Linked DNA regions of Homo sapiens: all the other regions are linked to region 1. Evidence: fine-mapped QTL for protein levels in blood plasma. A gene starts in region 1. Each other region holds a variant in brackets. All regions are shown on one strand. Distances are between the middles of the regions.

The links. PIP is the chance, under the fine-mapping model, that this variant and not a neighbour inherited with it causes the effect. The UK Biobank Pharma Proteomics Project read protein levels with antibody pairs (Olink). The fine-mapping took linkage between variants from a reference panel, not from the people measured, so its PIPs are less certain.
Region 2: its variant is fine-mapped to the plasma level of the EGFLAM protein (UK Biobank, PIP above 0.99). The variant lies in the coding sequence of EGFLAM. If it changes the protein, the assay may bind it differently, which can mimic a change of level.
Region 3: its variant is fine-mapped to the plasma level of the EGFLAM protein (UK Biobank, PIP above 0.99).
Region 4: its variant is fine-mapped to the plasma level of the EGFLAM protein (UK Biobank, PIP above 0.99).

Annotation. Positions count from the first base shown.
Region 1 is chr5:38,253,749-38,261,854 of GRCh38, forward strand. It overlaps EGFLAM (EGF like, fibronectin type III and laminin G domains), which reads left to right and starts at 4,811. Exons shown (of 22, transcript NM_152403.4): 1 at 4,811-5,103. The coding sequence starts at 5,007. It overlaps LOC124900966 (a long non-coding RNA gene), which reads right to left and starts at 4,918. Exons shown (of 2, transcript XR_007058739.1): 1 at 4,846-4,918; 2 at 3,349-3,883. RefSeq lists an enhancer at 3,441-3,942.
Region 2 is chr5:38,401,849-38,409,954 of GRCh38, forward strand. EGFLAM (EGF like, fibronectin type III and laminin G domains) reads left to right here. Exons shown (of 22, transcript NM_152403.4): 7 at 4,278-4,393; 8 at 4,980-5,298; 9 at 5,957-6,057; 10 at 7,156-7,256. EGFLAM-AS2 (EGFLAM antisense RNA 2) reads right to left here and starts at 1,623. Exons shown (of 3, transcript NR_102750.1): 1 at 1,551-1,623; 2 at 1-233. The variant C/T (reference allele first, on the strand shown) is at 4,301.
Region 3 is chr5:38,359,162-38,367,267 of GRCh38, forward strand. All of the region lies in intron 5 of EGFLAM (EGF like, fibronectin type III and laminin G domains), which reads left to right. Among named protein-coding and RNA genes, the nearest start is that of EGFLAM-AS2, 40 kb to the right of the region's middle. The variant G/A (reference allele first, on the strand shown) is at 4,795.
Region 4 is chr5:38,371,366-38,379,471 of GRCh38, forward strand. The region is part of intron 6 of EGFLAM (EGF like, fibronectin type III and laminin G domains); the gene reads left to right. Among named protein-coding and RNA genes, the nearest start is that of EGFLAM-AS2, 28 kb to the right of the region's middle. The variant T/C (reference allele first, on the strand shown) is at 4,702.

The sequences.
Region 1 (8,106 bases):
ATATAACCTCATAATTCTGCTCACAGGTATACACAGCAGATACACATACATATGTCTGCCACAGACACATACAAGAATGATCACAGCAACATCTTCGGTTGTAGTTCCAAACTAGAAACAACCCAAATGTCTATCAGGAGTAAAATGGATAAACAAATTATGATACATTTCTATAATGGAATACTACACAGCAATGAACATGAATAACCACACAACTTGGATGAATTTTTTCAAACATAATGTTGAGTAAAAGAGGAATAAGTGATTACATTACTGCATGATTCCATCTATATAAAGTTCAAAACCAGGCCAAAATAATCTAGGTGCTAGAAATCAGGAAAATGGTTACCTATTTGGTTGTAGGGTAGGTTACAGTTAGTGGGAAGAATGAAAGGCTTTTGGGGTGCTGGTATTGTTTTATTTCTTGATCTGGGGGTTTATTACACGTTTGCTTTGTCAGTGCAGTCCATTGATTACATACTTAATTATAATCAAGTATAAGCAAGGAGGACATAATGCATAGCAGATGGCTATGCATTATACAGTATCTTATTATATATGTTATCATTTGTAATACAGGGTCTTTGTCACTCAACCCAATAGCACATTATTTGCACTCTTATTTAGGGCTTCCTTTGTTCTGCTTTATGGAACAATTGACAGTGCAACTGTCTTCGTCTCCCAACAAATTTGTAGTCTTCTTGAGTGCAAAAAATATTGTTGCATTTTCTCTAATATATTATTTCTGTTCTTAGCACAGAGACTTACACATAATGGGATTCAGTCTCAATGTTTGTTTTACATTGGTGTAGGGAGAGTGTTTACTTATTTTTACTGATCTACTTTTATTTGTGTGTTTTAATTAAAGGTAAATGGGAGGTTAGAATTCTCATCCCTCATCCTTCTTCAAAAATACACACTTCTAGAGAGGAAGCATGAAGAGGGCTTTGTGGGGGTGCTGGTCATATCCTATTCCTTGATCTGGGCAGTAGTTAATAAAGTTATACAAGTGTGCTCACTTTGCTATAATTCATCAATTGGTACACTTACTATTTGATACTTTTGTATGTTGCATCTTGATTAAAATGTAACATATAAATATATGTATATTTATATTTCTAGTTTGATAAGACACTACGTTGGTGAGAGTTCACGGAATTAGTTAGGCACATATACTGCTTATTGGGGAGTAAAATAGTACAACCTCCTTGGGAGGAAATGTAGCCAAATTATCAAAATTGAAAAGGCATTTACTGTTTGACCGAGCATGGTTAGTCTAGAAATGAACCCTACAGTCTACTATAACATGTGCAACTTATTACATATTCAGTGTCATTCATGCCTGCTGTTTATAATAATTGGAAACAACAGAAGAAAGAACAAATAAATTACATATCACATGTAGAATATTATTCAGCAGTTAGTAAGAAGGAGGCAGATCTGTATCTGCTGATTTGGAAGGATCATCAGGTTAAGAAGTACGTAGAAGATGCTCTTGGTTGCGTTAAATATATGTGTATATAATTAGCTTGTCCATTCATAGACCATCTCTAGAAGGATATCCAAGAAACTGGTGATGGTAGAAGGAAGAAAAGGAAACTTATTTTTCACTATACACTCTGCCTGATCTGCATTTCAAATTTTACATGTAGATATAACCAATTTAGAAAAATAAATCAAAAGATGATTCTTGGCTGCTGCCTCTTTGTCACTCTCATTTAGAGTCTTAATAAACATTCTATAATTGATAAGTTTGCCTTTACTTTCTTCTACCAGCCTCCAAATCTATTCCATGCAGCAAAGGTCAGATTCCTCTTCCATGATAATGAGCAAAGTAGGCAGGTCACTCTTCTGCTGGTGACCTTATTAATTGAGTTTAGACCTCCAGTGAATTTGAACAGATTTTTTTTTTTTTAATGAAACATTCAAAGCCTCTTGGCCCCTCTTTAGTTCCCCTCCTCTCAGAAAGCAGGAAGAGAGTGAAAGGCAAGTGTTCTATTTGTCTTTAGTCAGATTTACAAATGCCATAGTTGGTTTTCAAACTGGAAGGAGAGGGAATCTTCCAGTTCCCTTGGAGGATGCGATTTGAACTGCAAAGGAAGGGAATAAGTTTAATGTAACATGTGCTCTAGATTTGAAGCAGATTTTGTGAAATAAGGTCTTATCTCAATGGCCTGATGATCCAGAGTGTTTGCAGGCCCTCAGAGGTAAAAATACAACAGTATAATCTAATGTTGTTTTTCCCCAAGGAAAAAACAAGAGGGGTCTCTGAAGAAACCAAGCCTATTTCCCAAATCGCCTATGGTCATCTGCAAAAAAATGGAAGGGAGGCCCAGGGCCAGGGATGCCGAGGTGGTGTGGGCACATGAGGAGGACATTGGCAAGAAGGCTGCCCAGGCTTGCGAAATTTGCAGTGGACAATTTGCACAGGGTCTGTTAAAAGGCACATGCAGAGTAAAGGTAGCTTAGATTAGATGATGCTGTTTTATCAGCTATTAAAGAGAAAGCAAAACCTGGAATTTACTGATTGTTTCGTCCAGCCCATTCATTTTTACCAAGGCACACTATACGCAGAGCCTAGGATTAAACACCCACATCTCCCGATCCTCTCAGTCCACTGCTGTGTTTACTTTCCACATTGTTCTCTCAAAAGCCTGAAAGCTGGAATCAGACCCCTTGGATTCAAGCGCTGCATGGGAGCTGCATGACCTTGGGCAAGTTTCTTAACCTTCCCATGCTTCAGGTTCCTCACCTGTAAAAGGCGAGAATAGTAATGACAGTATCTTCCTGGTATGGTTGTTATTGGGATTAAAATGCACTTCAAAGAAGGTCTGGTACATAGGAGACCTTAAATAAATGGTAGCCATAATATCAACGATTATTATTACTTCCAGTTTCAGCATCACAGAGAATCATTTTTAAGTAGGAAAGCCTGCATGGGAGGCATCTGCATTGCAACACTCGCTTGGTTCTGGGTGCCACATTAAGTCCGAGATAAGAAATCACTTTCGCATAAAGAAAGGCCTCTAACAACTTCTCAGCTGGCGCTGGAGGAGCTCTCTCACACAGGTGGAGTTCAAAGGGAGGTGGCACGACCCGACACCAATGCTGAAAGCAGACTCCTGCGTGGAGTGGAGGCATGGCCTAGATGACCTTTAAAATGCTAAAAAGTCTATGATTTTGAGACCTTTGAGACTAGCAGCCTTGGGGGCAGTCACTTTGCTTAGCTTAGTGGCCGGCTTTATGGTCACCTTGGACGTGAAGAGCATAGTTCTGTCTGAACTTTGCTCCAGTTCTATGTAAGAGGACAAGCTCTGGTGTCACAGCTAAAACTTCCAAATACTCAAGTTGGAGGGGACTTTGAATTTATTTGTGAACAGACAATTGCACACTTGAAAATGCCAACACATAAGGGAACACACTCAGCTTTGCTAACTAACAAGATTGAGCTCATTACAAACTCTCCAGCCAGGGGATATTTCATTCTTAAAAGAGGAGTAGAAATCCTGTGTGTGTGTGTTTGGGGGGCTGGGGAGGGGAGAAGAATATATCAGTCAACATTGTTTCCTCCCGCGCTCCCAAACATAGGCTAACTGTGAAGAGCCAGGACGCCCACCGAGTCCTGGCAGCGTTGCAAGGTGGGGAGGGGGCGGGCGCGGTCCTGTCGCTAGTGACTGCAGATTTCCTCTGCGGGGCACTTCCTACGGCCTTTGATCTTTCCCCAGGAACTGCCGAGGGCCGCGTTTGCCTCTAAGTTTATTCCCTCTTGGTTTATTTATTGTATCTGCTTTCTCTTCTCGCTGGTTTGGAGGTCAGAACGCCAGTATGCAACGGGACTTGTGTCCCAGGCAGGGTCTCCCCTCTCCAGGCACTACCGCGAAATCTGGCAAAAGGTACATTTTACTGAGTCCTAGGGCAGCAAATTCAGCGGCGGAGAAAGAGTCTTTCTCCATTCAGGAGACAACCCAGGAAGCCCGATCCCGGGATCAGAGGCCAGGACCCCGCCCCGGCCCCCTGCCCCAGGCCCAGCTGGGCGCCGCCCAGGGGCTTTTCTCGGTCCGCCTGGGGGCTCGAGCTCGCGTCCCTCCCTAAGACGCCAGGCTTAACTTGGAGTTTCATCTCCTCCCCAGGAGGGTCTCAAGTTGCCTTCCTCTGCCGGGAAGGGCCCCCACTCCCCCGCTCCAGGCCCTAATCTCCACCCGGCGTCCCAGTCTGAGCGGCCTGGCCTCAGCTCTCCATCTGCGAGCCTTAAATCCCATTTATCTTCTTAGCGCCTCAGACCCGGACGGTCCCGCCTCTCTTCCTCTCACCCCCACCCCACTTGCAAATCACAGACCCCCGTCTACCCCTCGCATCCCCCAAGTGCGCTGGACCAACTACAGCAACCTTTGAGGTGTTAGAAAAAGTCGCCTAGAGGGGCGCGGCAGGAGGAGGGCCCAGGTGGGGTGGAGGGGGGGCGCCCCAAGATTTCAGGGTGAGGACCGCGGAGGGTCCTGGACCCGCAGTCGCCTAACTCCTGCCCTGCGTCTCCAGTGCTTGAAGTCGGTCCCTCCCAGGTCCCCAATCTAGGTCACCAGCGGGGAAGGGCTGCGCTGGGGGTCGCTAGAGAGGGTGAGGGGCGGGCTGTCTGCTTCCGAGGTGGGCGAGGAGTGAAGGTTTCAGGGCCTGTCCCTCTCACTTCCACTCGATTGTAATTTCATCCCCGGGCCGGTCGAGCCTCCCTCCCTCCCGCGGCCAGCCCTTCCCTCCCAGTCGGCCTCCTTCGTCGCCCCCGCCCCCGCGAAAAGCCCTGCAGCTTGCAGCCGGCTTCACTCGCGCACGCCGACCTCCCGGCTGCAGTCCTACCTCTTGGAACTACCCGTGTTTCCGGGCCCAGCCCTCGCAGCCCCCCACCTCCTCGCCCCGGCCCGGGGATCCGTTGGGGCCGCGTCCCCCACGCGCCCCCGGAGACGCCCTTTCCGTGTGCGCCCGGGACTTGGTGAAACTTTGCAGGCGCCGGCTGCGAAATGGATTTAATCCGAGGCGTCTTGCTCCGGCTCCTGCTCCTGGCTTCCAGCCTCGGACCCGGCGCGGTGTCGCTCCGAGCGGCCATCCGAAAACCAGGTAATGCGCTCCTCCGCCCAGAGCCACCACGCCCCGAGCGCCCCTGCTGGGCTCCGGGGCGAGGACACAGAGCGGGCAGCGCACCGCCTCCCTCTCCCCGACCAACGTCTGCTTAACTCGCTTCAGCTCTGCCAGGAGCTGAGAAAAGACGCAAACCTCGCCCTCCCCCGAGCCCGGGCGGCGCTAGGGATATTTATTTATTAAAAGAATGATCAATTTTCCAGACATAGTAGATAGAGGTGGTGGTCCCCGTGTTTGACCGCAGAGAGCTGACAGTTGGGACAGCGATCGTGCTGTCTCAATTACAGAGGATGGCAACCATGCAGAGGAGTCAAACCAGCCCCTCCTGCGTCTCCAAACATTTTACTCAATTCATATTGTCCAGAGCCCAGCCATTTCCTGTTAAGTGTCTGAAGGGTTGCCTGGAGCCCCCTCTGCCCATCTCGGGTCCTGCCCACGCGTTGTGCAGGGATGTGGACTCTGCTCTTAGCATCCTCTTCCACTCTGGGGCCATTTGTTCAGAAGGAAGCACCCAGTGGGTTAATTTTACCGTGTTTTGAACTCCTGTCTTTGCTTTGGCATTTAAACAAAGAAATGTACGTTGTAACCTGTTATAAGGGACTGGGAATTGGGGGAGAACTTGAAACCATAATAACGTGTGTTTCCTCTAGCTGCATATAGGTAAAAAGTCTTCGTTTATTTTGGTCTACTTTGATTTGGCCTATGCTGTGAGATTATTCAAAGTAGAACATTCTGAACAATGAAGTTCTAAACATTGTTTCCCAAATAACGATTTTTATTACTTTTTGCTGGGACCATATTTAGAATTCTGAAAAATCTGTTTTGTCTTAACTTACTTTGTAAGGGAGGTTGTCTTATGGGATTAATTATATCTTATGAACAATGGAAAACAATATTACTTTTATTTGAATGCAGTCTGCAAAACCTCACAGAAAGTGCAGTTTGTCTTCACAAACGTTTCTGTAAGAAAGAGGCAAAGCTAGGAAAATTTATCAGAGGGCAGAGAAAATCGTCTTAGCGGGATCCCATGTGAATGCTTAAATATTTTCGCATTGAAACTCTCTATCTGGAAATATGACTTGTTGCATTTCGGCTCTGGAAGCGTCCTCAGTCTTTGCACTGTGTCTCTTATTACCAGCACTTGTTACCTGCCTTGAAATCTAAGGTCATTATCATAATCTACACCATATTTAAATTATGAGCCACTCCATTTATGAGCTCTTCAATTCATTTTGGAGATAATAGCTTCAGTCCAAGGTAATATCACATTAAATTGTTTCTCTTCCTGCACGCACACATACATATACCTTCAAGGATTTCAGTGAAGGGCTTCTTTCTAACTTTCCTCCTTAAGATAACCACATCACGATCAATTGCATTTTGCAGATTTATTCACATGAAATCATCTATTAATTGTCACAATTTTTAAACAAAGCATAGTTATATCTATAGTTTTAAAGCATGAACAGTGTATGCAATGCTTTTTAAAGGATATATTTTAATCCATTTAAGGGGAATTTTTAAAAAGCATTTTATAAAAACCTGTTGTATAAAACTGCTCATGTGGGTCATCATATTTTCCTTCTTATTTTTTGGAGTTCTTCTCCTAAAAAGATTTTCTACCTGGTTCATTCAGGGTCTCATTCTGATATTCATGCCAGGAATATGCCATGCTGGCCTCTTTGGTTTTATTTGAAGCATAGATAGGGTTTTGATAGTGGAAACACCACCTCTTAAATACTTTGGCATATTAATTACATCAAATTTGAGATAGAAGTGTTTAGACTAGGTTCAACCTAGAAGAGTTTTATTTTTATTACTTTATAATTTTATCCAGACACTAGCTTTCAGGTTGGAAAGCTTCTCAGATTAAAATGACAGCTACTTCATAACTTCAGGGGAAATTTCCCTCCTGGGCTCATTTACATCCCTTGGAAAGACTAGTTTTTGATCCGGAAAATTGGTCCAGATTAAAAAACTGAATGTGCCCTGCTTGGCTCTGATGTGAGCAGCAACTAGCTAATTTATAATCTTCCCCAGACACTAGCAAATCCTGCTAGTATCCATATGGGAGTTTCTTTGTACCTTGTTTCCTCAACAGAAATTGGTACATAGACAGTACTTTGAAGGTATCGTGGCCACGGTGCAGGCATACTGGAGCGGTTCTGTCTTATTTGGATGACCCTCCCTATCTCCTCATACTCCTAAATCTACTTTTGATAAGTATAGCATTGTTGGAGAAGTCTTGGATTCAAAATCAACCTGGAAATTCCCCATCCGCACCTACCTCTGGTGAGAAAAAACTGAGTAGCAGCTTCAAGTCTGAGTCTAGTTTGGGTTCAACACAAGCAACCTTTCTCTTCACCCCAAGATAGCTCATCTTTTGACATTGAACATTAATAAAGAAACCTCTGCATTTGCCAAGACTTACAAGAAATGACAGTTTTCAAATTAAGTGAAATTAAATCATAATAACTAACACTAAGTGCTTGCTACACTGTTCTAAGAACTGGATGCACAGTGATTTATTTAATCAACCCAATAGCCCTGGGAGATGGGGACTATTATTATCACTGTTTTACTGAAGGAGAAATTGTGGCTTAGAGAGGTTAAATATCTCATCCAAGGTCACACAACTAGTAAGCGGTGGAATGGAAATTTAAACTCTGATATTCAGGACCAGAAACTGAGCTCAGAACACTGTGTTTGCAGAGGTGTGTAGCATGTCTTGTAGGGTGTCTTCCTGGAGGCTGAAGAGTGGAGCTCCCGTGGGTCAGATATTGGAGCCTAGGTGGAGGCTGCTGTTTTGTGTGGGGATCCTGCGTTGCTCTTAAACATTTGTAAATGGGATCTGCCCATGCCTGCTAAGACAACAGAGTGCATATGATACTGAAAGAATTTTGGAAGCTACTGTCTACTGGCCTCATTTATAAGAATCACAGGGTGTGGCCTTATGGGGTGATGATGAACCACTTGCTTCTC
Region 2 (8,106 bases), 150 kb after region 1:
CAAGCAATGGGCATTTATGCTGATTGGAGGCATATATCCATGGCTGGGTTGCCCCATCCAGGAGAAGATGAAGGAATGTCCTACAAGTCTTGGTGGCTTCTTACTTTGTGGAGTCACCATTTTTCCCAGAAGAGTCTGTTTTCTTTTTAAAATGTCGCTTGATTTTGGTCTTCTGATGGCACACATTCAGCTCTGTCTCCATAGAATGCATGCCCTCTGGGAGAATAGGTAGGCTGTGTGTAAGGAGATAGGAGTGGGAAAAAGATGACAATGGGAAAAAGCATTAACCAAAATCCTAGGGTAAGAAAATACAAGATGCATTCAGGAGACAACTGGCAGGCCAGTTTGGCTATTATATAGCTTTTAAAGAGTATTTTTTAAAAAACAACAAAAACCTGAAAACATAATTAGGATTCAGATTAAGTAGCATGATGTAGTCAAAAGAGAGACCAAGGATAAAATCTAGCCCTGCCATTCCCCATCTGTCTGCCTTGAGCAAGTTATTTAATCTCTCTGTGTCTATATCTCCACTTGGTAAAATGGAAGTAATAACACCAATTTTATAGTATTTTGTGAGGATTAACTTAAGCGATGTATGAAAAGCTCCTGGCACACTAAGAATGATCAACATATGGTAATTTTCTCAAATTCTAGGATCTTTCTACCTCCACAGTGGCTTCTTCTGCAATAGGCGATTAGGAGAGCAGTCACCAGACAGACCTTGGATTTGAGTTTAGCTCAGCCAGTTATAAAGTCTTCAATTTTAGGTAAATTACTTAACTACTCTTAACTCAGTTTTCTTATGTATAAAATGGATTAGTCATACTTACCTTGTAAGATTATTGAAAAGTTTAGAAATATATCATGTTAAGCACCCAATAGTACCTGATAAGAAGAGGAGATGGAGTAGAATTCAATAAATCATGGTGATGGGGGAAGAAGGAGGAAAAAAGGAGCTGTTTTAATTGAGAACCTTGAATTCTTGACCAAGAAGCCTAGAATTTATGTTGTAGGCAGTGGAGAGTCACTGAAGGTGATTTTTCAGATAGGAAATCATAGGATAAAGATGAAGAGAATCTTAACCTTGTTGAGAATGTGTTAATAAGGTGCACAGGGCAAGGAAGAACAGCCTGGAAGGAGAGAGACCAAACTACTGAAGACAAAAGCCAGCTTGCTTTATGTATGTGCTGTATAATTCTTTTACTACCAAATGGATTTCTTCTTCTGGAATCTAACAATTCTGAATATGTGAGAGAGGCAGAGATAGAAATGAAGAGTGAGGGAAAGGACAGAGGGGAGAAAGAGAAAGAGAGAGAGGGGCCGAGAGAGATAGATACAGTAGTTCCCTCTCCGCAGGGGATGTGTTCCAAGATTCCCAGTGGATACCTGAAACTGCAGATAATACTGAACCCTATATATGCAGCAGAACTAGCATAAATTTCATTTTCCTTCTTCACAGTTTCACAGATAGAAGATTCATTCTTGCCATAGATCTTAGCAACCTCAGCATATGATTTTTTTCTTTCCTTAATTCAGTTGAGAACTTTCACCTTTTAATTTAAAAGATGCACTTCATGGCTTCTCTTTGGCATATCTGAATCCCAGAATCACTGCTCTTGCACTGTGGGGCCATTATGAAGTCAGATAATGGTTACTGGAACATAAGCACTTCGATACCATGACAGTGAATCTGACAACTGAGACGGCTGCAGACCATGGGGCAGGGAGCATATGGAGCACGGATATGCCAGACAGAGGGATGATTCATATCCCAGGCAGGATGGAGCAGGGCAGTGTGCTATTTCATCGTGCTACTCAGAACTTATGAATTGTTTATTTCTGGAATTTCCCATTTAATATTTTTGGACTGTGGTTGATCGAGGGTAAATGAAATTGCAGAAAGCAAAAATACAGATAAGGGGGACTGCTTGCTGTACAAAGATAGAGACAAGAGGAAGGAGCTGTCCTCAAGGGCCTTTTGTGTGAAGACATCTGGCACACAGATACGCTGCATGCAGGTGGCTTGAGAGAACATGCATCCAGGTATAAATCTGGCATCGACAGGTTGAATTTTCAGTTGACAGGTGGACTACTTTAAATAAAACTGGGGAATTGGTGTGGAAGGGATGAGAACACCGCCTCCCCTTTGTTATCCCACCTCCACCAAGAAGTGCCCGAACCCCTGAGAACAGCTCACTCCACCCTGTCTCTGGGTCATCTGCATCATCTGCTGACTGCACTTCTCTCGTCTGGTCTGGGAGGAGATTGATTTCTGGTCAACAGCACGCCCCCTGACAAAAATGACTTTCTGCCATTTCCTTCCACTCCATTTTCAATCTGATTGCTATTCTGTTTGGAGGAGTGCTATGGTCGGAATGTTTATGTCTCCCTCAAATTCATATGTTGAAATCCTAACCCCCAAGGAGGGGCCTTTGGGAGGTACTTAGATCATAAGGGTGGAGTCCTTGTGAATGGGATCAGTGCCCTTATTAAAGAGGCCCAAAGGGGCTGGTTTGCCCTTTCCACCATGTGAAGATGCAGTGAGAAGGCACCATCTGTGCCCTCATCAGATACTGCCAGCCCTTTGATCTGGGACTTCACAGCCTGCAGAACTGTGAAAAATAAATGTTTGTGGTTTACAAGCCATCAGTTTATGGTACTTTTGTTGTAGCAGCCTGGACAGACAATGTAGGAGGGTGAGTTTGTCTTCCTGAGAATGGTGCATGACTTAGCTTATTCTGAAAGCAAAATGTCTTTAAGTTTAGTTTATGTTTTTTATGCTTTTTATGTTATTTTTCCTTTTTCTTTTCCACTAGGCATCCAAACACTGGATGTCTAATAACTAATGAGTGGCAGCATCCTACCAAAGCCAGTTTCTGTTGCCAAAGTTGTTACTGCCCTAAAGGCTGGTGCCTGGCTTTTTCAGTTGAGAGAGGGCAGCAAGTTAATACCTGTGCTGGCCCAAATCCACTGTGAGGACATGCAGGTGCCCTGGAGCCGCTCTTTAAAAGGCTGCCACCTCCTGGTGGAGTGTTTCCCATGTGCAACCTAAATCAGAGCGCTGTGGATCAGTGGATTCTGCGGATGACAGTTGAATAAAAATGCCAACTGAATGTTCCCCAAAAGATGATGCTCTGTATTGACGTCTGAGAGGTTTTCTCACCCACCTTTCAGTTCTGAAAGATTTAGTTGTCCTGCTAAGATGGATGAAATGGATGACCCCCAAGATACCTTATAGGGCCCCCTTTTTTTGGTTGTGGGAGTGTTTACTATAATCTCCCTTTTTTGTTTTAAAGACCTTTTAGTGAAATACTTTGTACTTCAAAAGTATATATATGTATATATACAACATATAAAAAATATGAATATTTACAGGTACCCAGCACTTACCTTAAGAAACAGAATATGATGGAATACTCTCAAAGGCCCCTGTGAATCACACCTCATTCACATCCCTTTTCTATCTTCCCTTGGGTATTTATGTGTTTGTCCTGCTTTTTTAAAGAGTTTAAATTACATATATATGTATCCCTAAGTAATATATTGTTTTGTTTGCTGTTGTCTTTTATATTAATGTCATCAAACTAGATGCATTCTTTTGCAACTTGCATTTTTTTTGTATGAAGTCATGTGAGATTAAGCCATGTTGATATATTAAATGATGATTCATTCCTTTCCCCTACTATATGGTACTCCATTCTATAGATATACTATAAATAATTTAGTCATTCTTTGTTGATGGACATTTGGGATGTTGTTTGTTCTTATAAATAGCATATTTGGAGTATTTTTTACTATTACAAATTCTGATGCTATGAACCTGTTTTGAACACGCCTTTTGGTACACAGGTACAGGAGTTTCTCCAGCTTTTGTAAGTTGGGATGGGATTGCTAGGTATGAACAAACATCTACTTTATGAAATATTTCCAAGTATTTCACAAAGTGACTGGACCAGTTTATACAAGTACCATATGAGTCCTCATTGATCCCGTCCTTAGTAATATTTTTATTATCTGATTGACATTTTTGCCAGTCTTGTCAGTATAAAATGGAAGCTCTTTCTGGTTTCAGTTGGAAATTCCTTAGTAACTTATGAGAGGAAACTTTTTTTATATCTTTTGGTCATTGACGCTTCCTTTTCTGTGTTGAATTCATTGTTATGTTTCCAATACACTGCGTTCCATTCGGTACAGCTCTGCCTGTGGCTGAGTTAGGCTAGACAATAGTGCAAAGAAGGCCTGTGCTGATGAAGGGTGTGCTGCTTTTCTTTGTGAAGGCCCTGAGGAGGCGGGAAGTGGC[C/T]GCTATGGACCCCGTTATATCACCGACATGGGAGCTGGTGAGGATGATGAAGGATTTGAAGACGACTTAGATTTGGATATTTCCTTTGAGGAGGTAACAATAATCTCTGCTCTTAAAACCCAGGGTGTTTGTGTTTTCTTGCCGAACAAGACAATTTAGCCAATGGACCATAAACATTTTACTTAAAACTTAAATGTGCCCATTTGCTTTTAACACTGATTTGTTTTGTCTGATGATCAGTCTCCAGGTGCTGATAAATCAGTAGTAGGGAAGTACTAGCCATCCTGATGTTCCATAGGCAGCTCCTGCCTGCGGACTTCACAATCTGGCAAAAACATATTTCTATTTCCCACCAAGGGAAATTTCAGAAAATCAAGTATTATAAGGAAATGAACAATTCCTTGACAAAGTCATGCATCTTCATCATATTGTAATAAGAATAAATAATGTAATATCAGTTTTACTGCTGATTTTCTGAGTAATACAAGGAAAAGCACTATAAGTCCCTGACCATCAAGCTCTTTGTCCATAAATTAGAGTCAGTGCTGTCTTCCCCATCTCCATCCTAGGGTTTTTGGAAGTGACCATGTTTTCAAGTACTAGGCAACAACTATAAATAAAACAGTCCAATTGCCATGCTCTGTGTTCATCTTGAACCCCTTTCCTTCTCTGGCTTTAGGTTAAACCACTTCCTGCTACCAAAGGAGGGAATAAGAAATTTTTGGTGGAAAGCAAGAAGATGTCTATATCTAACCCAAAGACCATTTCTAGGCTCATCCCCCCTACCTCAGCATCTCTCCCTGTGACCACGGTGGCTCCCCAGCCCATTCCCATACAGAGAAAGGGGAAGAATGGTGTGGCCATAATGTCAAGGCTCTTTGACATGCCTTGTGATGAAACTCTCTGCTCTGCTGACAGCTTCTGTGTCAATGACTACACCTGGGGGGGCTCGCGATGCCAGTGCACCCTGGGCAAAGGTGGTGAGAGCTGCTCAGAAGGTAGGCCCTTGGGGGAGAGGAAGAAGTGGTGATGAATTGGCACCATTGACAGCCAGAGGGCAGTTTTGTGGTCCAAACATAGTTCCTTCTAGTCCCTTCTCCAAGATAAGTACCTTCGTCCACATATTGGTCATTAAATTAACTATACAAGGCAAATTGTGAGGCAACTTTCATTGCTTCTAAGTAGACAGCAGCCCTATTTCTATGTGTGCCAAATGTGTAGTCCCTTTAAAGCAATCAATAAATCATCCTGATACTATCTTAGAGAGGTAGGTTTTACTATAATCACATCTCTACCAAAATACGCAGTTAAAGCTTATGCATGAGGGTTAAGAAGGATAACAACTGGGCCAACTTATATTACACAAAGGCCTGTATAGCTGAGGGCAAGTGACAGTGGCCCTAATGCCATTGGTTTCTTCTTAGGAAAGCCAGTGCCGGTCTCCAAAAATGCAGCTTCTTCCTAAGAATTTCAGAAGCTCAAAGTCTCCAAGAATGAGAGTTGTAGGTATAAAAAGTATAGAAAAGAAGATAGCGAAGTTGAATAGATTAGTGAGGGTTCTCACTTAATGATATTCAGGCAACGTTGTATATTGATTTTTGCTTTTGAAGAAGTGAGGAAATAGCATTCTTTTGTGTTGTCTTTTTTCTTCTTCAGATATTGTTATCCAGTATCCTCAGTTCTTTGGCCACTCCTATGTAACGTTTGAACCTCTGAAGAATTCTTATCAGGCATTTCAAATTACTCTTGAATTTAGGGTAAGAGGGATGTGTTGTTTGATGAGTGCTTTTTGGACACTTTAACACAGCAATGTGCTACATTCAAAGGCTGGGGGAGAGGAAGCGGGGCAGCAGGGAGAGCGACGAAAGGTAAATATGACACAGAGCCTGTCTCTAAACCAGCTCATGAGACAATAGGAATGAAGAGTACATTCACAACATTCAAGTGTGACAGTGAGGAGACGGTGGGTTTGTATATTACTGAACTATAGAGTAGCTGGCATGAAGATTGCAAGTGAGAATGTTGGGGTCCGAGCAATGTTGTTCACAATAGTGATTTCTCCCAGGCCAGGATTGAGAAGAAACAATGCATTCCCCGTTCCAAAATTGTTTAAAAAGAGAGCCCAATTCTCTGTCTTCATTGTGATAGCTGTCACTGAACAAATAGAAAACTTTTCTTTACGCAAGCCTTGCTTCGTGAGGGCCCAGTGGAGGTTCTCTGATTTGAATCAACTGCAGATAAGAATTCAGTCAGTGACCTCAGCTTAAACTGATTCTTTTGGGTATCTCCAATGATACAAAAAGGTCTGGAGGTCTGGAAAGAAGTCTCATTTGAAGTCATGGCCACAGTGTTGAGTCTTCAAGAAATGACCTGTCTTAGTCTAAGACCACCAGCACAGCTTTTGGCTGAGCTATTCTTACCATCCTGTTCTCCTGATAGAAGGAAAGAAGCAAATGTGCATGCCTCCCCAGGGGGAGGGAAATAGAAAGAACAAAGTGAAAATAGAATTGGATGTACACCAGCAATGTCCTCACTGTGACCGTGGTCTTTGTACATTTGGTTTTCTGAGGCTCTGCAGGTGCATCCACAAAGGACAAGTAAAGAGCGGGTCAAAGATGGGGTCACCTTGCTCTCGCCTCACTGCTACCCCTCAGTTTATATCACTGCCATTTGTTTATTGAAAATGAACTGGGACCAGGTATCTGGGAGTGAATTGGAGCCCACATGCTTGACCCTTTGTAGATAGGATCGTGGAGGAGAAAATGCTCAAGTTTCACATTTGTGTCTTTCCAGGTGGTGCCTTAAGGAAGGGGAGGTGCTTACTGTTCATGTGGCTTTTGTTTGTATAATCACAGGCGGAGGCAGAGGATGGCTTACTGCTCTACTGTGGGGAGAACGAACACGGGAGGGGGGATTTCATGTCCCTGGCTATCATCCGACGCTCCCTGCAGTTCAGGTAATTCCTGCCAAAAGCCTCACACTCTTTTTTTGTTACATTATCTTACATTATATTTGCCTTTTTATAGTATGAAAAAATATATACAGGATAGGTTCTAGTAGATGAAAGAATGGTTTGTATAAAATGAGTATGAACCAGTTTACCAAATACTGGTGTACTGGGATTGCAGGATAACCTATAAAACTTGGGTTTTGGAAATCATTCATTCATTCAGCAGCACCTACAGTGTAACTGGCTCTGGAGGTGTTGTAGAGTGTACCTGGTCCTGGGGATGCTGTTGAACATACCTGATGCTGCAGGTGCTGTTGAATGTACCTGGCACTGCAGGTGCTGTTGAATGTACCTGGCTCTGGAGGTGCTGTTGAATGTACCTGGCACTGGAGGTGCTGTTGAATGTACCTGGTGCTGGAGGTACTGTTGGATGTAACTGGTGCTGTAGGTGCTGCTGAATGTTTCTTGAGGAGGGTACCTGGCACTCCTGTCAATCCTGAGGATGCAGAGTGAGCCAAAGGAATACAGTTTCTTTTCTCTGGAGCTCTAGTGGATGTGATGGGAAGAAGGCTGGGGCCTTCTCATCTCCCTTTGGCAAATGTGGCTGACAGGTGTGGACTGAGAGGAGCCTCCAACCTCCTATGGGCTTACCATCCTCATCTTCCTCTGGGCTGTGCTGGGAACTCTTTGGCTTGCCTCCACTGCCCTCATCGTTTCTCCCCCAACACACTTTGGAAGCCACCTTTAGCTTATGTGTGGTCTTCCTGGGGGGCAGAGTTTTGTCGAAGGGTGAAGATTTTAATGAGTCTTGTGGAGGTGTGCACTGCACCTCTTTGTGAACAACCAACGGGCACCA
Region 3 (8,106 bases), 110 kb after region 1:
AAGCCTGGAAAAACGTTCCTCATCACTGAAGTTCCAATCGGGGTGCCATGCCTGTCGTATGCTGTCTATCGAGTTGGATAAACATGAAAAATAGTTTTCATTTAACTTACCTAGAGTTTTTCTAAAGGTGTCACCTTATTGGCTAAAACTGCTTCAGAGCTTTGCATTGTCACCTTCTGGAAGGGGCAGGCTAAAGCTCAGCAATGGCTGTTTTTAGTTAAAAGTCCACCATTGGCCGCGCGCAGTGGCTCACGCCTGTAATCCTAGTAATCCCAGTCCCAAAGAGGCAGATAACTTGAGGCCAGGAGTTTGAGACCAGCCTTGCCAACATGGTGAAACCCTATCTCTGCTAAAAATACAAAAATTAGCCGGGTGTGGTGGCACACACCTGTAATCCCAGCTACTTGGGAGGTTGAGGCACAAGAATTACTTGAACCCAGGAGGTGGAGTTTGCAGTGAACCTAGATCATGCCACTGCGCTCCAGTCTGGGCGACAGAGTGAGACTCTCTCAAACACACACACACAAAGTCTACTATTGGCTTATTTTGGGTACATGTGAAAGTTCAGAATATGTCTGTGTATGTTTTAGGGACTCGGGTCAAGAAACGTTCTCTAAATCTCAACGTAAGATATTTATATTAATAAGTGAGAAGGAGCAAAGCTTCCCATCTTCTTCCTTTCTGACTTTTCTGCCTAAATATTCCTCTAGTCCCTGGCAGATGCCTTCCATAATAAGACTTGAAGAATTCATCTTCACACGGGGCTGCTTCTAGGTGGACTGCAGTACCTACATATTGGTTTCATTTGAGACTTTCAAGGTCATGCAACCTGGGTGGGTTTTTTAAAGTATTACTCGCAAATTGATATTTTTGTCAAAAGTCATCTCTCCTTCCATCTCATCATAGACTTCCATATTCTGTAAGTAACAAAGGAACTTAATTAGTTTCCTCACAGGAAGTGACCCTGCAAAGGCTGTTACTGAAATGAAGATCAAGTCTGGGATTCAGAATGGAAGCTGAACAGAGGATGGATTTTCTTTGAACTGTTCTAAGAGATGATGTGATTTGACTCATGGTCAAGGTCAAAAGCTGTGAAGGTTAAAGGCATTTCTCATTCAGAATTGAGGCTTATACCCTGATTCATAGTATCATCTCTTGAGGTTTAAGTGTGTCCAAATGTGGAATCAGGAGAGATGGTTCTGAACCAGCCTCTAAGCCTGGTGAAGTTGCTTGATTCCAGTCCTCAGTTTCTTTCTCTGCAAATTAAGGCATGCTGGATACGTGACATCTAAAATCCTGTGACTCTGCTCGTCTAGTATCAAGACGTAGGGGAGGCAGTATCGATGGATTGCGTAACACACAGGCTCTGGGCTGGACTCCCTAGTGCAAACCTTGTCTCTACCACTTCTAAGCTGTGTGATCTTTGGTGGGTTATTTAACTTCTCTGGCCTCAGACAACAGAATGGGGATAATAATTTACTTGCTTCATGGGGTTATTATGAAATTACATGAGTTGACACACATAAAATGCCTAGAACAGCGCCTAGCCCTTAGTAAGTGCTCAATCAATGCAAACTATTCCTACATGGCTTACTCGATGGGTCTTTTCTGCTTTCCTACATAGCCTGCTTCTTCCTGGCTACAAGTGTGTTTTGAAATTATTTATTTATTTATTTATTTATTTATTTATTTATTTATTTATTTTTGAGATAGAATCTAGTCTTGCTCTGTCACTTAGGCCGGAGTGCAGTGGTGTGATCTTGGCTCACTGCAACCTCCACTTCCCAGGTTCAAGCAATCCTCCTACCTCAGCCTCCCGAGTAGCTAGGATTACAGGCATGTGCCACCACGCCCAGCTAATTTTTTTTTTTTTTTTGTATTTTTAGTAGACACGGGGTTTCACCATGTTAGCCAGGCTGGTCTTGAACTCCTGACCTCAAGTGATCCACCCACCTCAGCCTCCCAAACTGCTGGGATTGTAGGCATGAGCCACCGCACCCTCCCTGGCCACAAGTCTTTATGCTTGCTATCCTGTCAGGACAGCTATTCTACCTCCTTACTTAGCTTACTCTTGTTCATCCTTCAGGACTCCTCTTTAAGTGTCACTTCCTCCAGGAAGCCCTGCCTGACTACGTTCCTCTACTCCCAGATTAGGTTAGCTATACCTCCAACATTTACTTGCAATACTCAGCACACTTGTAGTTAATTACTTCTTCAAGGTCTGTCTTCCTCTTGGAACATGAATGCAACGTCTACCTTGCTCCTTTGTGTGGAATATAGGACATAGCACTGTGAACACACCACATGTCAAATAGGTGCTGGTAAGCATTTGGACACAGGCAGTCATGGGATTGATCTAGAGCAGGGGTGTCCAATTTTTTGGCTTCCCTGGGCCACATTGGAAGAGGAAGAATTGTCTTGGGCCACACGTAAAACACACTAACGATAGCTGATGAACTTAAAAAAAAAAAATCACCTCATAGTGTGTGAAGAAAGTTTACAAATTTATTTTGGGCCACATTCAAAGCTGTCCTAGGCCGCATGTGGCCCTCAAACAGTGAGTTGGACAAGCTTGATCTAGAGGATGCCAGCAACTAGCTGGATCCCTGAGCAAGCTGCTTAGTCCTGCTAAGCCTTACTTTCCTCTGCTGTAAAATACGGATGGTAATAGTGGCTACCTCAGAAGAGTTGCAGAGATGAACAGGTCTGTACAGCACTTAGAAGAATGGCTCATGGAGGATTTTTGATTTTTTTTTTTTTAACTTGAGCCACATGCAAATATATTTTCACACTAGCGGTTACTTATTTTTGAGTAAATAATGTAAAAAGCATTACCCACAAGTAATTCAATGAATCCTTTACCACCAATATCAGAGGCCACAACAGTAACCAACATCTGACCTCACCCACTACAGAAATAAAAACCATACAAAAGCCAACGAGGATCTGCACATATGCATCCCCCGACCCCCGCAATGCCCCACTTCAATCCCAACTGAAAGTTTATTTATTGCTATCGTTTTCTCATCATAAAAGTAATCTCAAGATGTGGTAAAGCTTCAAATAATACCTAAATGGATATGACTAACTTGAAAGTTCCTACTGTGATTTTATTTCATGTGGAATGCAAATTCATGTCTTAGAGCTCGTCATCATAACTAAGTGAACTGCCACCGTTCTTCAGAGCATTTTACTGGAATATATAGCAAAACTTGGACATATGACTGCAATATTTAAGAGTGATGTAGTCTGGTGTTGGCTTGCTAGCCCCCAAAAGTTAGAATTGAAAATATTTAAAGAATTATTCTTAAACAGTTAATTTTGGGAGGAAATGGGAAAAAACAACCCTCCCTAATCTCCCTTTCTTTTCAAAAAAAAGTGTTAGAAGTTTTGCTATTTAAGTATGAGCTTTCATTACCATCAGCAATAGAATTAGATATAAGCAAGAATGAGCTTGCTTGGATGTCAGCTGGGATTTCATATGACAGGCGACAAGTGCTGCTTCACAAAGAATTCTTTTCCTTACCTTTAGTTTTGAAACTGAAAATCTCAGAGCCACCTACTAGACTAGCACCTGGTCCTAGAAATTCCAGAAGCTGTCAAGTCCCTTTGCTCAGGCCCTAATGGAAGGGCTACTCTAAAGGATTTAAAGAAGTCCGACCTGTAGTTCGGCAAATTGATCCCGTAAAGCTTCAATTCCTCCTACCCTAAACATTCCTGATATAATTCCTGCTTAGACTGATGGCAATTGACATACATTGAATTATGAAACAGCTTTGGGAGCCATTTGTAAACTGTAAATGAAGTGTGCTCTCCTATTGCCCCACCTGGGACAAATTGCCAGGTGAGTTTATCATAACACCATTGTATCCATGTGTTTGTCATTTGGTTAGGTTAAACCAATTTGTAAATAAAGAAAGAAGGCTGAAAGCTGAAGGTCAAATACTACATCTTTTTTTTTTCCATCTTTGACTACTGAGTGGTTTTGGACCTTTCTCTGCAATTCATTTAGTGTAGAGCAAATCCTGCATAAAACCAGTATGTAAAATTGACTGATTCGGAGGCTCTTCTGAGCATGAGGTTTCCTCTCACCCCTGTTGTGTTTGCCCTGGGTAATGTATGGGATCACATCTCTTCTCTTAGAGCAGGGTGTTTAACTGGCAGTCCATAGATCCCCAAGGGTTTCCTGGATAGAATTCAGGAAATATAATTCAAGGGGTCCCTGGACTTGGATTGGAAAAAAAATTATATCCCTAGTTTTACCAATGGAAATTTAGCATTTTCTTCAAAAATGAATGTAGACAACAAATCACAATGGTATTAACAATTCTTGTGACCCTGTCAACATTAGAATCACAAGTATTTTCTTATCTGGTTACAATGGTTGCACATATCTCAAAATACCAGTTATGTTTATCACTACTTTGAAATTAGCATAGTTACTGAATCCATTGCTAGGTTTTTTATTTAATGTATTAATAAAGTATATTATTTCATGATTTTTATTATTTTGATGATCCTTTTCAATATAATTGATTTCCTTTGTGAACCTATATATTTGATGCCTTTAAAAACATCATTCCGAGAAGGCGTTCATAGGCTTCATTGGACTGTCAAAGTGGCACAAGCCAAGTTAAACCATGCTGTTGTCTTAGATCAGGGGTTGCTAAACTTTTTCTCACAGGATCAGATAGTAAATATTCTGTGCTTTGCCAGCTGTATGAACTCTGTCTCAACTGCTCAACTCTGCCACTGTGGTAGGAAAGCAGCCATAAACAGTACCTAAATGGGTGA[G/A]GTTAAACAGTACCTAAATGGGTGTCGTTGTGTTCCAGTAAAACTTTATTTACTAAGACTGGCAGCTGGCTGAAATTTGCCAACCCTGATTTAAGGCATCATGCTATTTCTAAGTTGAATTCTGAAGATATTTTAATTCAGCTCAATCACCCTTTATTGGATACCTCCTATGAGCATATGTTCATACAAACATGTATGTATGGAGTATCTCATGTGAAAAACATGCAAGAGATTTAGGGATGAATAAATAAGCTGTAGACTCCACCCTTGGACAGTCTACTGGGGAATGCAGATGGACAGAGTTCAGAGGAGTAGTGAGTGTTGTAGGCAGGCATGGCGATCAGGAACCTGGAGAAACATAAGCTTGATCTGACCTAGTTTTGAAGGAAAGAAGGCTTCTTATGGGAGCAAAGAAGGACACATCAGAGATTACCAGGCAAAAGGGGAGGGAGGAAGCAACATGAAAAGCTTAGACTGAGGAAGCCACTTAAGCAGTGGCTTGGAGGCAAGAAGAAAATGTTCCTGGAATTGCTTAGAAAGCCTGGAGCTCTGTGGGGTGAGAGATGGGTCGGTGAGGGTCACACCAAAAAAAGGCCTTATAAAGGTGCCCATCTATATCCTGAAGGGAATAGGGAGCTATGGAAAGTTGTAAGCAGGAAAGAGACTGGTAGCATTCCCGTCTTTGAAAGATCGTGCAGACATCTCAAGGAACACGTAGATGAAGAAGACAAAGTCACCATGCTTAATGAGCTCCCAGCCCAGGAGGAAAGACAGAAGTCTAAAATTATACTGGAAGGTGATCTAATCAGTGTGATAGTAGAATCAGATTCAAGGCATGGGATTGTCTGGAGGAAAGTATTTTTAATTCTGTTTATGAGATGATGTTTAGAAGGAATAATGTGAGAGAAAATACTTAGGGAGGGAGCCATCAAGTAACCCAGCGTCCTCCAGAAAGCATCCCATTGTGGGTTGGTAGGTTTGATGTGGAAAGAAGGAGGCCACAGGTGTCTGTCTGTGCTGTAATTAGGCTTCTGGTCCCCTCCCTCTAAGGCCAGTAGAGTGGCCTCTATGGTCAAGGCTATTCTGGATGTTCTGTTGTATCCCCTAGAGGACAGTTGGCTGCTCCAACAAATTCCACTCTCAAAAGTATTTTCCTAGCAGGATTTAACCAGTTTTAGCCATTTCCTAGTTAACGTCCATGACATGCTTTAGCTTCACTCTTCATCTCAGCTCTGTCTTTCTGGAACAGGAGTTCTCAAACTGAGAGGTGAAATAGAATAGAAAAGAGAATACCACAGGCTCTCACGCATAGTAAAAAGGAGAATCGGTTTGTGAAACTTGTTTCAGGTGTATGTATGTGTGTGTGGTGTTTACTGGGTCACAATGTCCAGTGTATATCTTACCGTGGATCATTCAAAAACACAGCTCTGATATGTGATGAATCCAGAGCATATTTGAGGTTGAACAGGCTTCATTTGCCATGTGTTGGTGTTGAATTCAAGTTCAAGAAACAGATTCCTCTCAGGGGCTAATGACACCTGCTTTATTTTTGAAATTGTAGAATTGGAAATGCCATCTAAGGTATTCTAGGGGGAAAAGTTCAGTGCAGTGTGTTTCAAATTATGGGCCACAGCACTTCAGTGAGTGGCAAGATCAATTTAATGGTCTTTTACCAGCATTTTGTTTTTTAAAAGGAGAAGTAGAAAAGAAAGGAAAAGGAGAGAAAGAAAGGAGAAACATGAATAAGGTAGTAAAGCTAAGTATTTTTTCTTGAAACTTTTTTCAGCTTTGTATTCATATATAATATACATATTTATGTGCATAGGTATATTTACTATGGAAAAATGTTTACTTACTGTGAGTCAAGGTCAGAGATACTGAATTAAGTAGCTCCCACCCTGATCAGGAAGTCACTTGTTACATTATGGTCCCTGATTGAGGACCACCCAGTTTTGCTTTAATATAGTCAACGAGGCCCAGTTCATCCCTTCCAAGGCAGTCAGCTTCATTGTCTGTCATTCCTAATTGACATCAAAAGGTTTTCCTGCCATTGGCTTCTCTGTAAGAAACCACTGGGCCTCTTAGTCCAACATGGAAAACACAGAAGCTTTCCACACCATCTTTATTTGTCTGTCTCTTATGTAAAGACACCACCCTATCCTCACTAAGTTTCCTCCACCTAAGCCAGCAGTACCCACTCTTTGGATCCTGCATCAAGCGGAGATGGGTCTAGAGCAACTTCTGCCCAGTGATCAACATAGAGAACCATGTCTTCCTAGGATATGGATTCTGGGACTTAGACTTTCCTCAGGATTCTAGTTCACAGTGACCTATTCAAATACAGTTCTTGAAATGTGCTATTTTGCGCTGGCTTCCTACTGGTCCTTAGAGGTGCTGTTTCTGCACTGATGCTCAGATGTATTTTATCCCCAGCTTATTAGGTTATAAACTCCCTGAAAATGGAACTGTGCTTACACTTCCGTGGAGCCTCCTGGAATATAACTTTTGTGATGGATGCCTGGTTGATAATCATTCATCATTTGCCAATGGACTAGCCCATGGCAGCCACCTATGGGGTTTGATAGTATCAAGAAAAGTGATTGTTCACTAAGATTGAGATTGGCAATGGGCAAGGTAGTCAAAACACCACAAGAAAGAATTAAAACAGAAAGGTATACCACCCAGTGGTTCTGTGACTTTGGGTAAATTATTTTCCTTCAGTGACCATGTAGGTAGAATGAGAGACTGGATCAGATCAGTGACTCTCAAAGCTTTTGGGATCATTATTTTATCTTTGAGAATCTAATAAAAGTGAAGGACCCTTTACTTAGAAAAATGAAATGTGTTCATGTATAAAATCCTGCATACAATTTCTGAGAGTCCTCAGACACTTGGACCAAATGATCTCTAAGATTTCACCCAGCCCTGATAGCCAGGCTGGATTCTAACAATGCCAATGGTAAGTGGCAAAATGAACCAGTTAGTGAGCCCTGATTAAGTGAATTGATGAATTGGGTTTTGATTACCCACTGCTGGCCGCATTCTCTATTCCCCACCTGAATTCACCTGCCCAGCAACCTTCCAAAGCTGAGCCACTGATCTCCTGAGGTATAGGGTGCCTGGCCCAACCCTATCTCACTACTTGGCAAAATGCTTGCAGTGTATGCCCTGCTGGTGGCTGCCCATGTTTTTGTTGTTGTTGTTGTTTTTGAGACAGGGTCTCATTTTGTCACTAGGCTGGAGTACATTGGTGCAATCATAGCTCGCAGCAGCCTCAACCTCCCAAGCTCAAGCAATCCTCCCACCCCAGAC
Region 4 (8,106 bases), 120 kb after region 1:
ACATGAAGCCCTGTTTTTATTGGTTAGCAGAGCTGAATAATCTCCTCTCCTCACAAAGCACCCACACAGCTGACATCCAAGGCCACTGCTGTGTTCAGGGGTAGAGATTCAGGAGGTTCCCCAAATCTGAGGAATTTTGGCTCCTTTGAAAACAACCTCTACCCTAACCTTGAATGTCGGGTCGCCTTTTGTCAAATTAAATTGTTGGGTTATATAGGGAGGCTATACTCCAAAACACACACATGCGCACACACACATACACACACACACACGCACACACATATGCACATGCTCGTGCACCCTATAAGTACTATTGATCACCCAGGAAAAAAAAATGTTTTCACTCTTCTTCTTTAGAATTTAGAAGCTTAAACTTCCCAGACACATTCCAAAGGCTGACGGCATTCTTCCTAGAAGAAATGTTGATGATTCGATTTAAAGGAAGGCCTTGTTTGATTACTCTTTGGCTGAACTTTATGGAATAGCAGGAGCTAGGGGCCGACAGTACTTTGAAACACTGAGTTCGTCTTTTTGCACTACAAAGTGAGCAGCCACTTGGTGCTGTGTCCCCATCCACCCTCCCCATGGAACTCCTGCTCCCATTTCGTGAGCTGCTCCAGGCTCACCTCTTTCAGTCTGTCCCTTAGCTTTCCCTTCTCCGTAGAGTCAAGAATGTAGAATAAAGATGAGATATAACAAGCACATGCTGATTTAGATGTGCGCATAGAGACTGGAGTCAGGGAAGGATGGGTGGGTTGGGGCACCTCTCATACTGCTCCTTTTTTTTTTTTTCTTGACTCAGAGACTCACTCTGTCACCCAGGTTGGAGTGCAATGGCGCGATCTCGGCTCACTGCAACCTCCGCCTCCCAGGTTCAAGCAATTCTCCTGCCTCGGCCTTCCGAGTAGCTGGTATTGCAGGTGCCCACCACCATGCCTGGCTAATTTTTGTATTTTTAGTAGAGACGGGGTTTCACCACGTTGGCCAGGCTGGTCTCTTTGGCCAGGATGGTCTCGAACTCCTGACCTTGTGATCCACCCTCCTTGGCCTCCCAAAGTGCTGGGATTACAGGCATGAGCCATGACGCCCGGCCTCATACTGCTTCTTTTTTAACGGAAACACTGATCTGGTCTTAGAGTTTCTGATTATAATTTCCCCATTGCTGGATCCTGCTTTTCTGGATTGAGTGGATAAGTTATATGAAAGTGTTTTACAGATCTGTGAGATTTTATTATAATTGGCCTGTTATGTGAAGTAAAATTTTAAAATTTCAAAGTAATTGTGGGTAGGGAAGGTGGACAAAACCATGCTAAGTCAATGAAAATTCTCAGTTATGAAACATTCTTAAATAGACATAATTTTACACTTCTAGGTATACACAGTTACTCAGATCAGAATAACAAAATTTATTAGATGACCTGTTTCATGAATACAAAAGCATGTGCTATAATTAGTATTTCAATCGTGGTTTTTCTCCTTGATCACTTCTGACATTTTGGAAAACCCTTTATTCTAGGATACATTTATATTTTTTATTTTGGTATTGGTTTAGACTATTATTTTGCTTCCAAAACATGATTTTCCCATACATAAAATTACCTAATTATCAAATAGCACTATCTGAATTAAATTAAAACTGTTAAATTTTAATTTAACAAATTAACAAATTACTTCAAATTAATAAATTTCAAATAATACAAAATACTTCAAATTAATACATTTGAAGTATCAGAGCTACCATTGGGAAGATGTACTATGAGCCAGGCAATGTGCTGGGCACTTTACCTACAAAACCCATTTAATCCTCACAGAAACACTGTGCTGGAGGAATAGTGTCCCCTTTTTACAGATTAAAAAAAATGAGTTTTTAAAAGGTAATGTATTTTTGGCAAGGTTGATCATTGTAAAGACAGGATTTGAACGTGGGTTTGGCTGACTGTGAAGCTGCTTCCCTGAGTGAGATGTATGTGGCTTCTAGTGTACCCATCACCCAAATAGTGACCATTGTACCTAAGAAGTAATTTTTCAGCCCCCACCTCCCTCCCAACCTCCCCGCTGCCTTTTGGAGTCCCCATTGTCTCTCATTTCCATCTTTATGTCCCCATGTACCAATTGGTTAGTTCCCACTTGTAAGTGAGAGCATGCAGTATTTGATTTTCTGTTTGTGAGTTATTTCACTTAGGATAATGACCTCCAGTTTCATTCATGTTGCTTAAAAGACGTGGGTTTGTTCTTTGTTATGGCTGCATAATATTCTGTAGTGTATATATACCACATTTTCTTTATTCAGTCAACTTTTGATAGATACTTAGGTTGATTCTGTGACTTTGCTATTGTGAATAGTGCTTCATAAACATGCGAGTGCAGGAGTCTTTTTCATATAATGATTTCTTTTCTTTTGGGTAGATGCCCAGTAGTGGGATTGCTGGCTCAGTGGTAGTTATATTTTTAGTTCTTTGAGAAGTCTCCATAGTGTTTTCCACAGAGGTTGTACTAATTTGCATTCCCATGAACAGCGTATAAGCCTACCCTTTTCTCCACAGTCATGCCGACATCTGGTAGCAAAGTTGGCATCAAATCAAGTAAACATTCATGTAGATGGTGGGAAGTGGGAGGACTGAGGATGGGATAAGCCCAGCGTGTAGAAATACCATACTGGCCTCACAAATTTATTCAGAGTAGGGTTTTTTTGACTAGTCATTCTGATTGGTGTAAGACATCTCATTGTGGTTTTAATTTGCATTTCTCTGATGATTAGTGATGCTGACTATTTTTTCTTGAGTTTTTGGCCACTTGTATATCATTTTTTGAGAAATGTCTGTTCATGCTGTAACCACCCAACAGTTCACCTTACCCGCTGCCTAGACAGAGCCTATTTATCAAGACAGGGGAATTGCAATGGAGAAAGAATCGTTCACACAAAGCCAGCTATGCAGGAGATCAGATTTTATTACTGCTCAATCAGTCTCCCTGAGCATTCGGGGATCAGAATTTTTAAAGATAATTTGTTGGGCAGGGGCTTGGGAAATGTGGAGTGCTGATTGGTCAGGTTGGAGATGGACTCCTAGGGGGTCGAAGTGAGGTTTTCTTGCTGTCTTCTGTTCCTGGATGGGATCACAGAACTGGTTGAGCCAGATTACCGGTCTGGGTGGTGTCAGCCTATCCATCCAGTAAAAGGTCTGCAAAATATCTCAAGCACTGATTTTAGGTATTACAATAGTGATGTTATCCCCAGGAGCAATTTGGGGAGGCTCAGACTCTTAGAGCCAGAGGCTGCATGATTCCTAAACCGTAATTTCTAATCCTGTAGCTAGTTTGTTAGTCCTACAAAGGCTGACTGGTCCCCAGTCAAGAAGGGGATCTTTATGGGAAAAGGCTGTTAGTTTTGTTTCAGAGTCAAACCATAAACTGAATTCCTTCCCAAGGTTAGTTCGGCCTACGCCCAGGAATGAATAAAGACAGCTTAAAGGTTAAAAGCAAGATGGAGTCAGTTAAGTCTGATCTCTTTCACTGTCATAATTTCCTCTGTCATAATTTTTGCAAAGGTGGTTTCATTGTCCTTTGCCCACTTTTTAATGGGGTTGTTTCTTGCTTGAGTTGACTTCCTTGTAGATTCTGGATATTAGTTCTTTTTCAGAGGCGTGATTTGAAAATATTTCTCCCATTTGGTAGATTGTCTGTTTACTCTGTTGTTGTTTTTTTTTTTTTTTTTTGGCTGTGCAGAAACTTTTTAGTTTAAGTCCCATTTGTCTATTTTTGTTCTTGTTGCATTTGCTTTTGGTTTTAAAACTCGTAAGGCATATTGCACATACAGAAATGTGGGTAAAACATATATGTGCACTGAAAGTCAACCCGTATATTTCGGTATAGCCCTAGTATTTTACAGCTGGCAGCCCCTTAGATTAGTTAGACCCAAACCAAGACACAGAAATGTTTTGAACACTACTCTCCACTTGTGAGGTCAGAATTTCCACATGTCGGGCTTACCCCATTCTCGTCCCTCTCACTCCTCTCTGTCTCCATGAATATTGGCTTGATTTAATGCCCACTTTGCTCCTTGAACAGCCACCTTCACAACACAATGTTCAAGGAGATCCTTGAGGCTAAGTGCCCAGTGGGAACCTTGAGATCCCACCAAGGACACAGGCCACTCCCTGGGGTCCTCTGTGGCCTGTTTATCTTAGGGCTAAACTCTTTTGTAAGAAAAGATAACACTTCAGCCCTACTAACTGGGGAAGCTTTCACTTCCCACTGGGCCTATTAATGCCAGACACTATTAGCAACTTAATTGCTTAATGGGGCAATTGGAAGATCTTAGTTGCTCTTGTGCTGGTAGTTAATGAAAGCCAGGCCCAGTGTTTTCATTAACTGGCACTTAGCTGAAGTGAGAAAGGAGGATGGTGTTGGTGGTTCCACTGCAATGTTGAGAAGTTCGTGCAGTGTCCACATCTAATTCCAGCTCCACAACATTATAAGTAGAACAGGAAGAAAAAAAAATGACTTTAGTGTCTAGGTCCTCTAATGAGAGCTAGGATCATTTTGGTGACCTTGAATAATAATGGTGCATCTACATGTACTTCTGTCTTCTCCTGGGAGGCGTTCCACACAAATCAGCACCTGTTTTGTTTCCAAGAGGAAATTCAAAGAAGACCCAAATCATGATCTCTCATTCTTTATCCCCATCCTGCTGTATTTTTTTTT[T/C]CCCTGCAAGAAAGAAACACCAGCAGCATTATAGTTTCCTTTTGACCTGGTAAATCAGGCAGTTGGAGTGCAGAACTGGGGGCTTTGTAAAAAATGTATTCACTGCCTCCACTGGCCACCAACTACTGAGCTTGAAGCTTAATGAGTACATTCTTTCATCAAGTAGAATGAAAGCCAGTAAAAAGGACATGAATGGTAAATAATAGAAATGGCAGAAGTAAAAAAGTCACTTGCCTTTCTTCTTTTTTCCAAAAACGGGAATTTAATTAAAAATAAGTTACATGTGTAATCAACTCTAGGGTTATATAACTTCCCCTAGGAATAGAACTTGGTCTTAACCACCAAAACCACTTAATTTCTAGGATACTATCCTCATGATATGAGCAGAGAAAGAACAAATACATTCTTCACTGAAGTGAATTGGTGTCCTTAGATCAGTTCCTAGTAGATGGTACTGTTTCTGTTCCTAGCAAAAGCCGTTTTGCTCTTTTCTGCTTCAGAACTTTAGCACCTGCTGTTTCCTGGGCTTTGAACTCTCTTCCCTCAGATCTTTCTATGATCATGCCACCAGCCTCCTCCCTTTCTCCTTTCAGATCCTAGCTCAAATGTCACTTTCTCAGATAGGCTTCTGGTTTTCTTGAGACAGGGTCTTGGAGTGCAGTGCCATGATCTCAGTTCACTGCAACCTCCACCTCCCGGGCTCAAGTGATCCTCCCACCTCAGCCTCCTGAGTAGCTGGGACTATAGGCACATACCATCACGCCTGACTAATTTTTGTATTTTTTGTAGAGACAAGGTTTCACCATGTTGCCCAGGCTGGTCTCGAATTCTTGGGCTCAAGTGATCTGCCTGCCTTGGCTCCCAAAGTGCTGGGATTACAGTCCTGAGCCACTGTGCTCGACCCCAGGCTTCTGTGGTCTCAGCCTAATGCCCTGCTTTATTTTCTCCATAGCACTTTCACTGCCTGAATCTATATTATGCATCATATTGTCTGTCTGTATCTCCTCTCTAGGATAAGGTCCATATTGGAGCTGGAATAACTTGTTCAACGTTGTGTTCTCTTTTTTTTTTTTGAGACAGAGTCTCGCTCTGTCACCCAGGCTGGAGTGCAGTCGTGCGATCTCAGTTCACTGCAACCTCAGTTCACTGCAACCTCCGCCCCCCAGGTTCAAGCGCTTCTCCTGCCTCAGCCTCCCGAGTAGCTGGGATTACAAGCACCTGCCACCATGCCCTGCTAATTTTTTTATTATGATTTTTAGTAGAGATGAGGTTTCACCATGTTGGCCAGGGTGGTCTGGAGCTCCTGACCTCAGGTGATCCTCCTGCCTCCGCCTCCCAAAGTGCTGGGATTACAGGCGTGAGCCACCACTCCCAGCCATCAAATGTTGTGTTCTCAACACCCTATGCAAGGTCTGCGCTCAATAAGTATTTATTGAGTATGTAAATGAGTGAATGTGACTTAACAAGCTAAGAGTCTGTGACTACTTTGGTGATTGGATAACTCCCTACTGCTACTGTATGGGAACTTCAAAGACAAGATGAAAGGAAACAGTTGTTCTAGAAACCCACATAGGCCAAAAGTGAATTTCCCATTGGCAAGGTTCGCAGGCAAAAGTGAACTCCCAGAATTGCAATGTGGTATAAATAAGGAAAAGGTAAACAAATAGAGTAAAAGAGGGAGGAAGGAAAGAAGGAAGGAAGAGAGCAAACCCAGTGAATTTAAATTCAAGGCTGTAAGGATGAGATTCTAATGCTAAAAAGAGTACAGTTTGCTGATAGCGGGTTGGTGAAAGGAGAGACATTTTCTAACTCTCTTTCAAACCAAGCCCTCATTTTACCCCTGGGTTCTTACTTGATCATTATAATAAGCATTAACATTTCTAGACTACCTTTTCCTCCTTTTCCTAATAAGGCTAATTATGGTCTCAGATCCTCAGGGATTACATAGAGAAGTATGAGAGATGTTTTGTTTTGGTTTGATTTTTGCCATACTGTTCTCTCCATAAACTGTTTTCTTCCACAGTTTCAGAAACATACTCTTCCACTGAGCTGAGACAAACTCCCTCTGGCTCAAATCAGATTTCTACAATAAATCTGATTCCATGCTGTTCCCCAGCACCCTCTCATCTCACCCCTCTTTTCTTCTCTACACCTTCCTGCTTGCTTAGTACAGCTGTCGTTGGTTGTGTAAACCTGTTGTCCCATAAGTGTCTGTGTGTGAGTCTGGCTTTTGCCCAGTTTTGCTCTGAGATTTGGGCCGCTGTGTTTTTCATTGCCCATCTGCCTGGAGACCAGTTACAGCATGCGAGGATCCCGGGGTACATGTTGTCATAGAGCCACAGAATAGATTTCCCTTATCCCTGTTCGCAAGTGAGGACTCTTCTTTGGCGGCAATGCCCCTGAATAGGCTGCAGCAGTGAGCAGAGAGGAAGCAATGGAGACAGAAGGTAGTGGCATGTTCTGGGGATGGCTACAAAGCAATCAGGAAGTGCTCCAAAGTCCCTGTGACTTATTAGCACTCTCTAGCAGCTTCCTTACAGCTGCAGCCTCTTTCAATCCATGCCTATGAAAGTTCTTGCCAACCTTTACACTATTCACTGCCCCCAAGCATCTGTACCTTTGAACAGAGCAGAATCTGGCCGGCAAGTCTGGGTCTGAGGTCCAGGAAAACTGTCCTCTTACTACCTTGCTGTGGGACCTCCTCAGAAAAGACACTTAGTATCTCTGGGTCTCAGCTTCCTCATCTCTAAGATGGGTACAGTAATCCTGAGACAGGTGATATTTTCTACTTCTCAGGGTTATTTTAAGAAAACACAAGTGGAACAGAGGTTAAGGTATCTGACCACTCTTCAAGATGAAGGAGATGTTAATAGATGTTCCCTCCATGCCTAGTTACTAAAGGATGGTGTAGCTGACAGGGGCAGCCACTGGGGGTTCTGTAGCTTTTTCATTAGACTCCAGGCTCTGAGCTCTGTTCTGGGAATGGGAAGACATCAGAATGCCAGAATTCAGAAACAGAAGTACAAGAACAAAAAGTTTCCTCTCTGGGAAGTGGAAGAATGGAGGAAGCCCTCTGAGTGAGGTCCACCGGAATCATTAGGATGGGACTTGGTTGTGTCGGGGAGGGAAGACTTTCCCTTTACCCACAGAGGGGTTAATAACTGAGTGTATGAAATAAACGGACAGCAGGCAGATTAAGAGGAGAAAAGGTACACACATTTTGTATATGCACAGGGGGCATCCAAGGAAAAAAAGTGAATACCCCCAAACCCAGTGGGATCTAGAAGCTTATAGACAGGGGAGGAAGGACGCAGAGAACACAGGAGAGAGTAAATGATGCATGGAACCTCCAAAGAATAGGTGACAGATAGCCCATGACAGTCTGTCTCGGTGTGGCGTTAACCC